2 separate regions of the Homo sapiens genome follow, and region 1 is linked to region 2. A link means that fine-mapping ties the variant in region 2 to the expression of a gene that starts in the linked region. Tissue or cell type: whole blood. Region 2 holds a variant in brackets; the other region holds the start of a gene. All regions are shown on one strand. Distances are from middle to middle. Region 1 holds the start of HTR6 (5-hydroxytryptamine receptor 6). Region 2 overlaps TMCO4 (transmembrane and coiled-coil domains 4).

Region 1 (5,307 bases), 21 kb before region 2:
GTTACACTGAGCTATGATAGCATCACTGCCTCCAGCCTGGGCCACAGAACGAGACTCTTGTCTCTAAAAAAGAAAAAAAAAGTCTCAAGTTCAAGATAATAACAGTATGGCCACAAGGTGGCACCATAACCCTGGCCCAATCTTAAAATAAAATTTTAAATTTTAGCACAGAGCGCATTATAACAAACATCAGCGGATCCATCACCCAGAATGAACAAATGTTAAAGTTATTGCCAGGTTTTCTTTAGTTAGTTTGTTTGTTTGAGACACTGTCACCGAGGCTGAAGTTCAGTGGCTATTCACACGTGTGATCATAGCTCACTGCAGCCTTGAACACTTGGCCTCAAGCAATCCTCTCACCTCAGTCTCACAAGTAGCTGAAACTAGAGTCGTGCACCACCACGCTCAGCTAATCTTTAGGTCTTTTTTTTAAAATAAAAGATATCAAGTATTGTGGGAAAAGTGAAAGCAGAAAGACTAATATTCTATGCACTACCTACAGATTTTTACAAAGCAACATTTATCAGGCAAAATTTTTTACTCATCTCATTCACAGCTCCACTGCCTTGGTTTCATAGCAGCAGAGAATTTAAGAGGCTTTGCACAACTTCACAGAGCAAGTGGCAGACTCTGGATGATGAACCCAGGATGCTGGGCTCCAAAATCCTTCCACACAGCACCTCTCAGGGTTGCAGCTGTTCACGTCAGAAATCCCTGGGCTCAAGGAGTTAGCACAGAGCTGAATGCATTACGATTGTGCTGATGGGAACACTAAAGCCAAGAGCTAGGTTTTTTTTTTGTTTTTTTGTTTTTTTGTTTTTTTTTTTTTTAGATGGAGTTTCGCTGTTTTTGCCCAGGCTAGAGTGCAGTGGTGTGATCTCAGCTCACTGCAACCTCTGCCTTGTGGGTTCAAGTGATTCTCCTGCCTCAGCCTCCTGAGTAGCTGGGATTATGGGCGTGCATCACTACACCTGGCTAATTTTGTATTTTTAGTAGAGACGGGGTTTCATCATATTGACCAGGCTGGTCTCGAACTCCTGACCTCAGGTGATCTGCCCGCCTTGGCCTCCCAAAGTGTTGGGATTACAGGCGTGAGCCACTGTGCCCGGCCAGCTAGTGTTAACATAGTATCAAAGACACAGATTACATCAGTGTCATTTAATCCCCTCAGCTACTCTGTGAGGTGGGTGCCATATTGTTCTGCTAACTATTACAGAAGAGAAAGCTGTGACCCAAGGAGATGGAGCCACTGGCCCTGTAATCCCAGAGCTGGGATGGAGCGGGGATCCCAAGCCATGTGTTTCTGACTCTCTGCCCAGGCTTGCTGTACTACGTTCTGTTCCTTGGGGGCATGGCAGAAATCGTCACAGTGGTGCAGTGTGGTGGCAAGGAGGAAGGACAGGCCTCCTCTATCTGCTTAAAAGATGCTTCTGTGGGCAAGGCTGGGGCTCTGAGCACCAAATAGCAGCTTAGAGTTGGCGGGTGGGTGCTGCAGGCTCTGAGGTGCCTGAGGGGAGGTTTTTGACCATCTGTAATGGGCTCTCTTTGCCATGGGCATCGAGCAGATCTGGGTTTCAGGTCCACTTCACCACTTGCTGCTGGTGATCTGGGGCAAGGCCCTTGGCCTCTCTGAACCCCAGTTTAACGTCTACCTCTCAGCATTATTGTAGGGGTCGGAATAAATAACTGGAGGAGTAGGAACCGTACAACAAAGCCCCTGGGGACAGCGCAGGAGCCTTCGATTTGGAAAGTATTATTTTTCTGTTTCTGTGGAGAAAAAATGATCCCACCCCGTTCTCTTTATACTACATTTTCTTTTTCTCTTTCTCTTCTTTCTTTCTCTTTCTTTCCTTTCTCTCTTTCTTTCTTTCCTTTTTTTTTTTTTTTTTTTTTTTTTTTTTGACAGAGTCTTGCTCTGTCACCCAGGCTGGAGTGTGCAGTGGCACAATCTTGGCTCACTGGAACCTCTGCCTCCCAGGTTCAAGCAATTCTCCTGCCTCAGCCTCCCGAATAGCTGGGATTACAGGCTCCCGCCACCACGCCCAGCTAATTTTTGTATTTTTGATAGAGACGGGGTTTTACCATGTTGGTCAGGCTGGTCTCGAACTCCTGACCTCAGGTGATCTGCCCACCTCCGCCTCCCAAAGTGCTGGGATTACAGGCGTGAGCCACCTCGCTGGGCCCACTTTCTCTGTTGATTATGCTTATTGTTTATTGTCTGTTTCTTCCACTAGAATGTAAGCTCCATGGAGGTGCGGATCTTTGTTTTGGCCACTGTAGTGTCCTGATGGGTCAGAACAGTGCCTGACATCTAGTGGATGCGCCTTAAAAGATGCATTGAAGTATCTGTTCAATGAATGAATGAATAACAGTATTAACCTGCACAGCAGTGTTAGGCAGAGACTCTTCTCAGCCAGAGGGGAGACGTACAGAGGGAGGTCACACCCAGGGGAAACCACACCCCACGCCTCTGCCTGCAGCGACTCTTAACACACCTGGCCTGGGGATTCTCAAATCTGTTCACGCTCTGTTAGACTAGGAGCGCCAACAGCTCAGGGACTTCATCCTTAGTACCTGGCCCCTTTGGGGATCGGGATGGTTTCTGCGGGAAAGGCCCTGGGGAAGGTTAGCTTCTTGCTCAAACTAACGGTGAAGAATGCCCAGAATTACTAACCCATTTTACAGATATGGCAACTGAGGCCCAGAGGGGTGTCAGGCGATTTGTCCAATATTTCCCAACTCCTGGCTCCCCTGAAAGCCCGGTGACCCCGTTGTGAGTGGGCAGGCACCCATTAGAGAGCAGCCCCTGGATAAGGGCAGGTCACAGCCCCCTGCTCCCAGTTCCGCCTGCGCCGCCGCCACGTGTGGGTTGGGAGGGGCATCTGAGGGTGTGGGGGCTGCCACAGCCCGGGAGGTGACCCCTCGCAGCTGGGGCGCTCTGATCTTCGGCCCACAGGCCCGGGGTGCCGGGACCCCGCCCTCCTGCAGGGCCAGGGCTCGGCTCTCCCCGCCCACCGCGAGGCGGGGCGCACGCTCCGCGGCGCGGGGACCGCGCGCTCCAGGCTGCACCCGGCCTCTCCTCCGCGCGTGCGGGCCCCTCGCGGCGCCTCCCGGGCTCGGGAGACCCGGTCCCGCCGCCCGCCCGGCCCGCGGCCGCCTCTTCCTCTCGCAGCCCCGCGGCGCTTGCCGCAGTCGCAGGCGGCGGAGCAGCCAGAGCGCCCCAGGTACCAGTGCGGGCGGGAGACGGAGGCGACCCTGCTGCCGGGTGGGGAGGGGGCGCCGCGCGGCCGCTGCCCTCCTCTTCCCGCGGGGCCTGGCGGCCCCGGCGAACCCCCGCGCCGCACAGGCCGTGTGCGCCGGATCCCGGTGCCTCCGCGCCAGCTGAGACCTGCCTTTCCCAGGGGCGGCTTTGCTCCGGCCCCTAGGCCCCCGCCCTGGTACCCCACACGCCCACCGGCCGCGGGGAGCCTGCTCCGGCCCGAGAGCGCCCATTCACCCCCCTCACCCACCTCCCCGCGTTCCCACTTCCCCGCACTCTGACCCGGCCGGACGCCCCTCCCCTATCTTGCCGCCCGCCCCCTCCAGGGGGCTCTGCTCCCACCCCAGGGAGCCCATCCGACCTCTGCTTGACTTCCCGCCGCTTCCTTCAGGGGCCTCGGCTCATCGGGTGCCCCTCCCCAAACTTCCAACCCGTTTGCTCCAGGAGTTCCTGCCCCATCCCCGAGGGCGCCCAAATAGCCACACTGTGTCCTCCTGTAGTCGCTGCCCCCTGACCTAGCGCGACCCAGCGCCCCCGCCCATGTCCCCCCACTCACCTCCCCCGGGGGGCGTGGTGAGTCGCGGTCTGTTCTCACGGACGGTCCCCGTCCAGCCTGCGCTTCGCCGGGGCCCTCATCTGCTTTCCCGCCACCCTATCACTCCCTTGCCGTCCACCCTCGGTCCTCATGGTCCCAGAGCCGGGCCCAACCGCCAATAGCACCCCGGCCTGGGGGGCAGGGCCGCCGTCGGCCCCGGGGGGCAGCGGCTGGGTGGCGGCCGCGCTGTGCGTGGTCATCGCGCTGACGGCGGCGGCCAACTCGCTGCTGATCGCGCTCATCTGCACTCAGCCCGCGCTGCGCAACACGTCCAACTTCTTCCTGGTGTCGCTCTTCACGTCTGACCTGATGGTGGGGCTGGTGGTGATGCCGCCGGCCATGCTGAACGCGCTGTACGGGCGCTGGGTGCTGGCGCGCGGCCTCTGCCTGCTCTGGACCGCCTTCGACGTGATGTGCTGCAGCGCCTCCATCCTCAACCTCTGCCTCATCAGCCTGGACCGCTACCTGCTCATCCTCTCGCCGCTGCGCTACAAGCTGCGCATGACGCCCCTGCGTGCCCTGGCCCTAGTCCTGGGCGCCTGGAGCCTCGCCGCTCTCGCCTCCTTCCTGCCCCTGCTGCTGGGCTGGCACGAGCTGGGCCACGCACGGCCACCCGTCCCTGGCCAGTGCCGCCTGCTGGCCAGCCTGCCTTTTGTCCTTGTGGCGTCGGGCCTCACCTTCTTCCTGCCCTCGGGTGCCATATGCTTCACCTACTGCAGGATCCTGCTAGCTGCCCGCAAGCAGGCCGTGCAGGTGGCCTCCCTCACCACCGGCATGGCCAGTCAGGCCTCGGAGACGCTGCAGGTACCTGGGGTGCGCAGGGAGACCCGGGCTGTGGGATAGAGAGGAATGAGCAGCCCCTGGGGACCCCCTGGGCATCCCCACTTAGCACACATTTGCTCATGGCCCTGCGTGGCTGTTGTGAGCGCCCACCTTTCTTCTGAACTCCAGAGCCAATGCCTGACCCACCCACCACAGGATAGCTCCGTCAGGATTTGGGGGCAGGCTTCTCCCAGGTACCATGTACAACAGGGAATTTATGGTGGCCCAACTCTCCCCATCTTTGCCTCCCTGGTCTTCCCCATCATGGCAAATGGCACCATTGCGGCATCACATGCCAGGAACTTAGGAATACTTTTCTCCCTCACCCTCATGCCATTCATTAGCGAGACCTGTTGGCGCTGCTCTAAACAGGTGCCATCTCCCCTGCCACTTCCTACCGGGGAGGCTGTGTAGACTTCTCCTGGCTCCCCTGCTTCTGCCGCAGACCCAGTACTCTCCATCTTCTGCATAGAAGCTGGAGCACTTAAAAAAGAAGTGATCATGTCACTCCCCTGCTTCAGACTCTTCAGGCTTCCCACCGTGCTCCAGATAAAGAAAACCTGTCTCAGGATCTGGCCTCAGGATCCCACACTGCCATCCTCTCCAGTGTCACCTCCCCTCTCCCTCTCTC
Region 2 (5,367 bases):
CCAGACTCCAAAGCTATGAGAAGTACAGAAAGCCCACAGTTGGTTTCCGGTCCTGGGACTCTAACCTGTGCTTGGTTGACTCTGCAGGTCTCTGATGAGGGGGCAGCTGCTCCCTGGTGGGGCTCCTCTGGGGACAGGCAGCTTCCCAAGGGTGGGCGTGTTCTCTCCTCCAAATTCCCCTTCCTTCCATTTCCTTTCCCTTTCAGTTCCAATTCCTTCCATTTAGGAAAGAGGCCTGTGGAAATCCTGTACCTCCAGAGCTCCTGGGAGGAACCCGAGGGTATAAGAGAGAGCTGCATATGGAGACTGGGGAAGACGGCTCAGGTCCCCTGCTGTGGTCAGTCCAGCCCCGTGCTGGGGCCCTGGGTCTTGCAGGCACAATCGGGGCAGCCCAGTGGGTTGGGGTCCATGCCATGGCTGCAGATGGGGGGCCTTTCAGGGCTGGCAGCAGCAGGAAGGGAGGCCCCTTCAGACTGGTCCAGCCCTACTGGCACCTGGGCTTGGCTGGGGTCTGTGGACATGGCCAATTTGGAGGTGTCTCCGGATATGGGACCCTGGGTTTGCCCAACCTGGTGGGGGGTCTCGCCTGATGAGGCGGCAGCTGCTGCCTGGCGAGGCTCCTCGGAGGGCAGGCAGCCTGGGGCCAGCAAGAGCCCCTTCTCGTCCCAGCCTGGCTTGGTGCGGATGCCCACGGCCTTCAGGATGGCATCCATCTGCTTGGCATAGTCCAGGTGGCCGCTGACCTGCAGGAGACAGTGAGTGAGCACCACCGTGGGTGTGCAGAGCCCAGCCCTCCCCAGGGACCTCCGGCCAAACTTCTGGGCCTCAGCCTTGCCCTGAGCATCCACAGCCAACGAATCACCAAACCCATGACTCCATCCCTCAGTGGCTCTCAAATCCAGAGTGGGTGGGAAGGCTCTATGTTCAAAGCTGTTCTAGAATTTATTAAATAAAGATGAAGGATGTTTCTCTAAAAAATCTGGATCCTTTTGGGGCAGGAAGGAATCTCCTGATAAACAGAAAGGTGGAGTAGAAGCTCTCGTTCTTTGTCTGAAGCTTTTTTTTTTTTTTTTTTTTTTTTTTTTTTGAGACAGGCTCTTGCCCAGGCTGGAGTGCCGTGGCGCAATCTTGGCTCACTGCAACCTCCACCTCCCAGGTTCAAGTGATCTTCTTGCCTCAGCCTCCTGAGTAGCTGGGATTACAGGCGTGTGCCACCATGCCAGTAATTTTTTGTATCTTTAGTAGAGAAGGGGTTTCACCATATTGGCCAGGCTGGTCTCGAACTCCTGGCCTCAAGTGATCCACTGGCCTTAGCCTCCCAAAGTGTTGGGATTACAGGCGTGAGCCACTGTGCCCGGCAGCTTTTTTTTTTTTTTTTTTTTTTTTTAAGGGATGGGCTTTTTGTTAAAATAGCATGAGAAAAAAGAAAAATGAAAACAGAGAGAGAGAGAGATGGGTTCTCTCTCTCTCGTCCAGGCTGGAGTGCAGTGGTACAACCATAGCTCACTGCAGCCTTGACCTCTTGGGCTCTAGTGATTCTCCCACCTCAGCCTCCTGAGTAGCTGGGATTACACGTGCATGCTACCATGACTGGCTAATTTTTAAATGTTGTAGAGATGGGGTCTCCTATGTTGCCCAGGTCTTGAACTCTTGGCCTCAAGAAATCCTGCTGTCTCAGCCTCCCAAAGTGCTGGGATTACAGGCCTGAGGCACTGTGCCCAGCTGATGCCTGCAGCTCTAGGCTACTCCAGAAGGGCTCTGCTGTTCACTAGTTGTGACACCTTGGTCAAGCCCCTCTACCCCTCTACCCCTCTGGCTCTCAACTTCCTCCGCTGTAAAAAGGGGAACACAAGGGTAGTTTCACCAGAGGTTGGCTGTGAGGATTTTCCCTGGAAAAGTCCTCAAATTGGAAAGAAAGCTACAGCATAGACTGCAAGGTGCTGGCTACAACTCACTCTGCCGTTTATTCTTTAGTCACAAGGACTCACATTTATAGCTGGGCACACTCCCCAGGCTTCCTTGCAGCTAGGAATAGCACTGTGACTAGTTTTGGCCCATGAGTTGAAGCGGTAGTGTGATGTGGTGTTCCTTGGAATTCTCTTTAAGAGGAGGAGTGCTCTTCTTCCCTCATGTCCTCTTTCCTGCTGGCTGGAATTCAGACGAGATGGCCAGAGCTTGAGCAGCCATCTTGGGCCATGAGTCAGCCCACTAAGGAAGGCAGAACAAGCAGCAAGAGGGAAATTTGGTCCTTGAAGACTGTGGAGTGGCACATCAGCCCTAAATGGCCTATTCTGATTTCTTTTATGTGACAGAATCAACCCTAGTGTATTTAAGACAATTAGGCCAGGCACAGTGTCTCACCTCTATAATCCCAGCACTTTGGGAGGCCAAGGTGGGAAAATCACTTGAGCCCAGGAGTTTGAGACCAGCCTGGGCAACATGGGGAAACCCTGTCTCTACAAAAAAATACAAAAATTAGCTGGGCATGGTGGCGTGTGCCTGTAATTCCAGTGACTATGTAGGCTGGGGTAGGAGGATGGCTTGAGCCTGGGAGGCTGAGGCTGCAGTGAGCCCTGATTGTGCCGCTGCACTCCAGTTTGGGCGACAGAGCAAGACCCTGTCTCCAGAAAAAACAAACA[G/A]ACAAAAAACATTAGCAGGGCCTCTGTTATATGGGTCTGCATCTTAACTAAGACAAAGGCCAAGAACTCAGAAGTGGCCACCCCCTTCGTCAGAGTCATACGTTCATCCCATTTTTGTGTTGGGATATGTTGGTGAGCAACAAGTAGGGGTGTGATTGAAATGCCTGATGCCTAGATGTAATAATGGACAATGCCTGACACGTAGTAGGTCCTTAATACATTGCAGCAAATAAGCTTCTTGGATATACTCCTTTGCTAGGTGTCGGCTGCTCACTGTAGATGAAATTGAGCCACACGGAGGTAAAGTGACTTACCCAAGGTCACACAGCTAGAACTTGGCAGGGCTGGGATTTGAATCCAGGCCTGTTTCTTTTTTTTTTTTTTTTTTTTTGAGACAGAGTCTCGCTCTGTTGCCCAGGCTGGAGTGCAATGGTGCAGTCTTGGCTCACTTTAAGCTCTGCCTCCTAGGTTCATGCCATTCTCCTGTCTCAGCCTCCCGAGTAGCAGGGACTACAGGCATCTGCCACGGTGCCCGCTACCATGCCCGGCTAATTTTTTTTGTATTTTTAGTAGAGACAGGGTTTCACTGTGTTAGCCAGGATGGTCTTGATCTCCTGACCTCATGATCCACCCACCTCGGCCTCCCAAAGTGCTGGGATTACAGGCGTGAGCCACTGCGCCCGGCCATCCAGGCCTGTTTCTAAAGCCTGTTCTCTTCAGAGAAAATCAGCTGGGGAAGGAAGGAAGGTTAAAAATCATCCTCACTTTACAGAGAAGGGCAGCAAAGCCCAGAGAGGGGTGGCGGTTTGCTTAATGACACACAGCGCATGAACAGCACAGTCTGGTGCTGAGCCTGAGATGCTGCCTGCAGAAGCTGCTCAGCCTGGATCTGCCCCTGAGATGGAGTCTCACGTTATACCCAGCCAGTCGAGGGGGCCTGCTTTAGTGCCAAAGATGCGCATGAGACCGGACTTTCCTTTAAGGCTGAAGGGGAAGGCTTTCTTTTTAAAAAAAGGACAGGAAAAACACCAGGGAGGCTGTTGTTGGGAATCTCAGAAAACAGCACAAAGACACTGCTGGTAACATCTGCATTTCCATTTGAATTGCAAATCACACTGTATTAATCAAATGATTTTTCAAAAACACGAAAAGACAATTCCCTGTACAGTTTTGTTATTTTCTCACCACTAGAATCTGCCCACCTCTCGTTCCTTTCCTCACGAATGCTTTTAAACAGATTCCAGGGAAAATACACACACGTGTATTCACACATCTAAGTGGTTTTCAGGGCCCTGGGCTCAGGGTGGTTGTCAAGGCACAGCCAGTGCCCCTCTGCAGCAGGACACATATTTAGTGGCTGCAGGGCCTGAGAAGGAACCTAAGTTTGGACTCTCTGAAAAGCTGGGGTACCAGCCTTGGCTCTGTCTCTTACCAGTAACTGGGCCAGTCCTCACAATTTCCTGAACCACAGCTTCCCCATCTGTAAAATGAGAGTCATGACCTTGAATGATTGCTATAAGGAGTTCAAGGGCCTGGCACTTCATAGGAACTCAGAGAATGCTAGCTTTTGATATTATGTTCCTATATGATCCAAAACACTTTTTGTTTTTCTTAATTTTTTTTTTTTTTGAGACGGAGTCTTGCTCTGTTGCCCAGGCTGGAGTGCAATGGCATGATCTTGGATTACTGCAACCTCTGCCTTCCAGGTGCAAGCTATTTTCGTGCCTCAGCCTCCCAAGTAGCTGGGATTACAGATGTGCACCACCACACCTGGCTAATTTTTGTATTTTTAGTAGAGACAGTATTTCACCATGTTGGCCGGGCTGGTCTCGGACTCCCAACCTCAGGTGATCCGCCTTCCTTGGCCTCCCAAAGTGCTTGGGATTACAGGCGTGAGCCACTGCACCTGGCCTTTTAAATTTTAAATGTAGAGATGGGGACTTCTTATGTTCTCCAGGCTGGTCTCAAACTCCTGGGCTCAAGAGATCCTCCTGCTTCAGCGTCCTAAATTGCTGAGACTATAGGCATGAGCCACGATGCCCTGCCCCAAACACTTTTAAAGAGACATCATGCAATTTGAGTTAGTGATACCTACCTAAAGGAGTTGCTGGGAAGAAATAATACAAACCATGAAGCACAGTGCCTGGCACCCCAGGAGGTACTCTGTAAATATGAGTTCCCTTACCTTAGTTTCCTACGAGTGGGGGATGGAGAGTAGGGAGTTAGCTGGGCTGATCCATTTGGGAGCCCAAGATGGCTGCTCAAGCTCCAGCCATCACATCTGAATTCCAGCCAGCAGAAACTTCAGACCCACAGGGACAAGTGATAACTGCCTCTCTAAGGACAAACAAGAACTGCCTCCCTATACCTTTTTAATGTTGTAGATGGCTGGTGCCAGTGCTGGGTAGAAACAGGCCAGGAAGGAAGGGAGGTGTTGGTACCCACTGGCTGCAGCTGATACCAGATGGAAATTCCACTGAGAGCTGTCCTAGAACACACAGCTCTGGCCCTCCTCGACTACAAGTTGGTCTGGGTCTCAGGCAACCCTAGTCCCTGAGCCACCCCTCTGCAAAGACCCAGGGGAGCAGTTGCTGGGCAGAGCTCTGGTTTTACAGTTAGCTGGAGAGATGAGAGAAGAGGGGTGAGGCAGGTCGGGAAAGAGCCTCTTCTCAGCACCAGAAAGTTCTGGTGTAGCCGATACTGCGTGAAGATTCAGCCCCTGACCATC

The links.
Region 1: it holds the start of HTR6, and the variant in region 2 is fine-mapped to the expression of HTR6 in whole blood (INTERVAL, PIP above 0.99).

Annotation. Positions count from the first base shown.
Region 1 is chr1:19,661,810-19,667,116 of GRCh38, forward strand. It overlaps HTR6 (5-hydroxytryptamine receptor 6), which reads left to right and starts at 3,066. Exons shown (of 3, transcript NM_000871.3): 1 at 3,066-4,658. The coding sequence starts at 3,945. RefSeq lists a silencer at 2,880-3,109 and enhancers at 2,888-3,860, 3,861-4,831.
Region 2 is chr1:19,682,702-19,688,068 of GRCh38, forward strand. TMCO4 (transmembrane and coiled-coil domains 4) reads right to left here. Exons shown (of 16, transcript NM_181719.7): 16 at 1-743. The coding sequence ends at 339. Among named protein-coding and RNA genes, the nearest start is that of HTR6, 21 kb to the left of the region's middle. The variant G/A (reference allele first, on the strand shown) is at 2,640.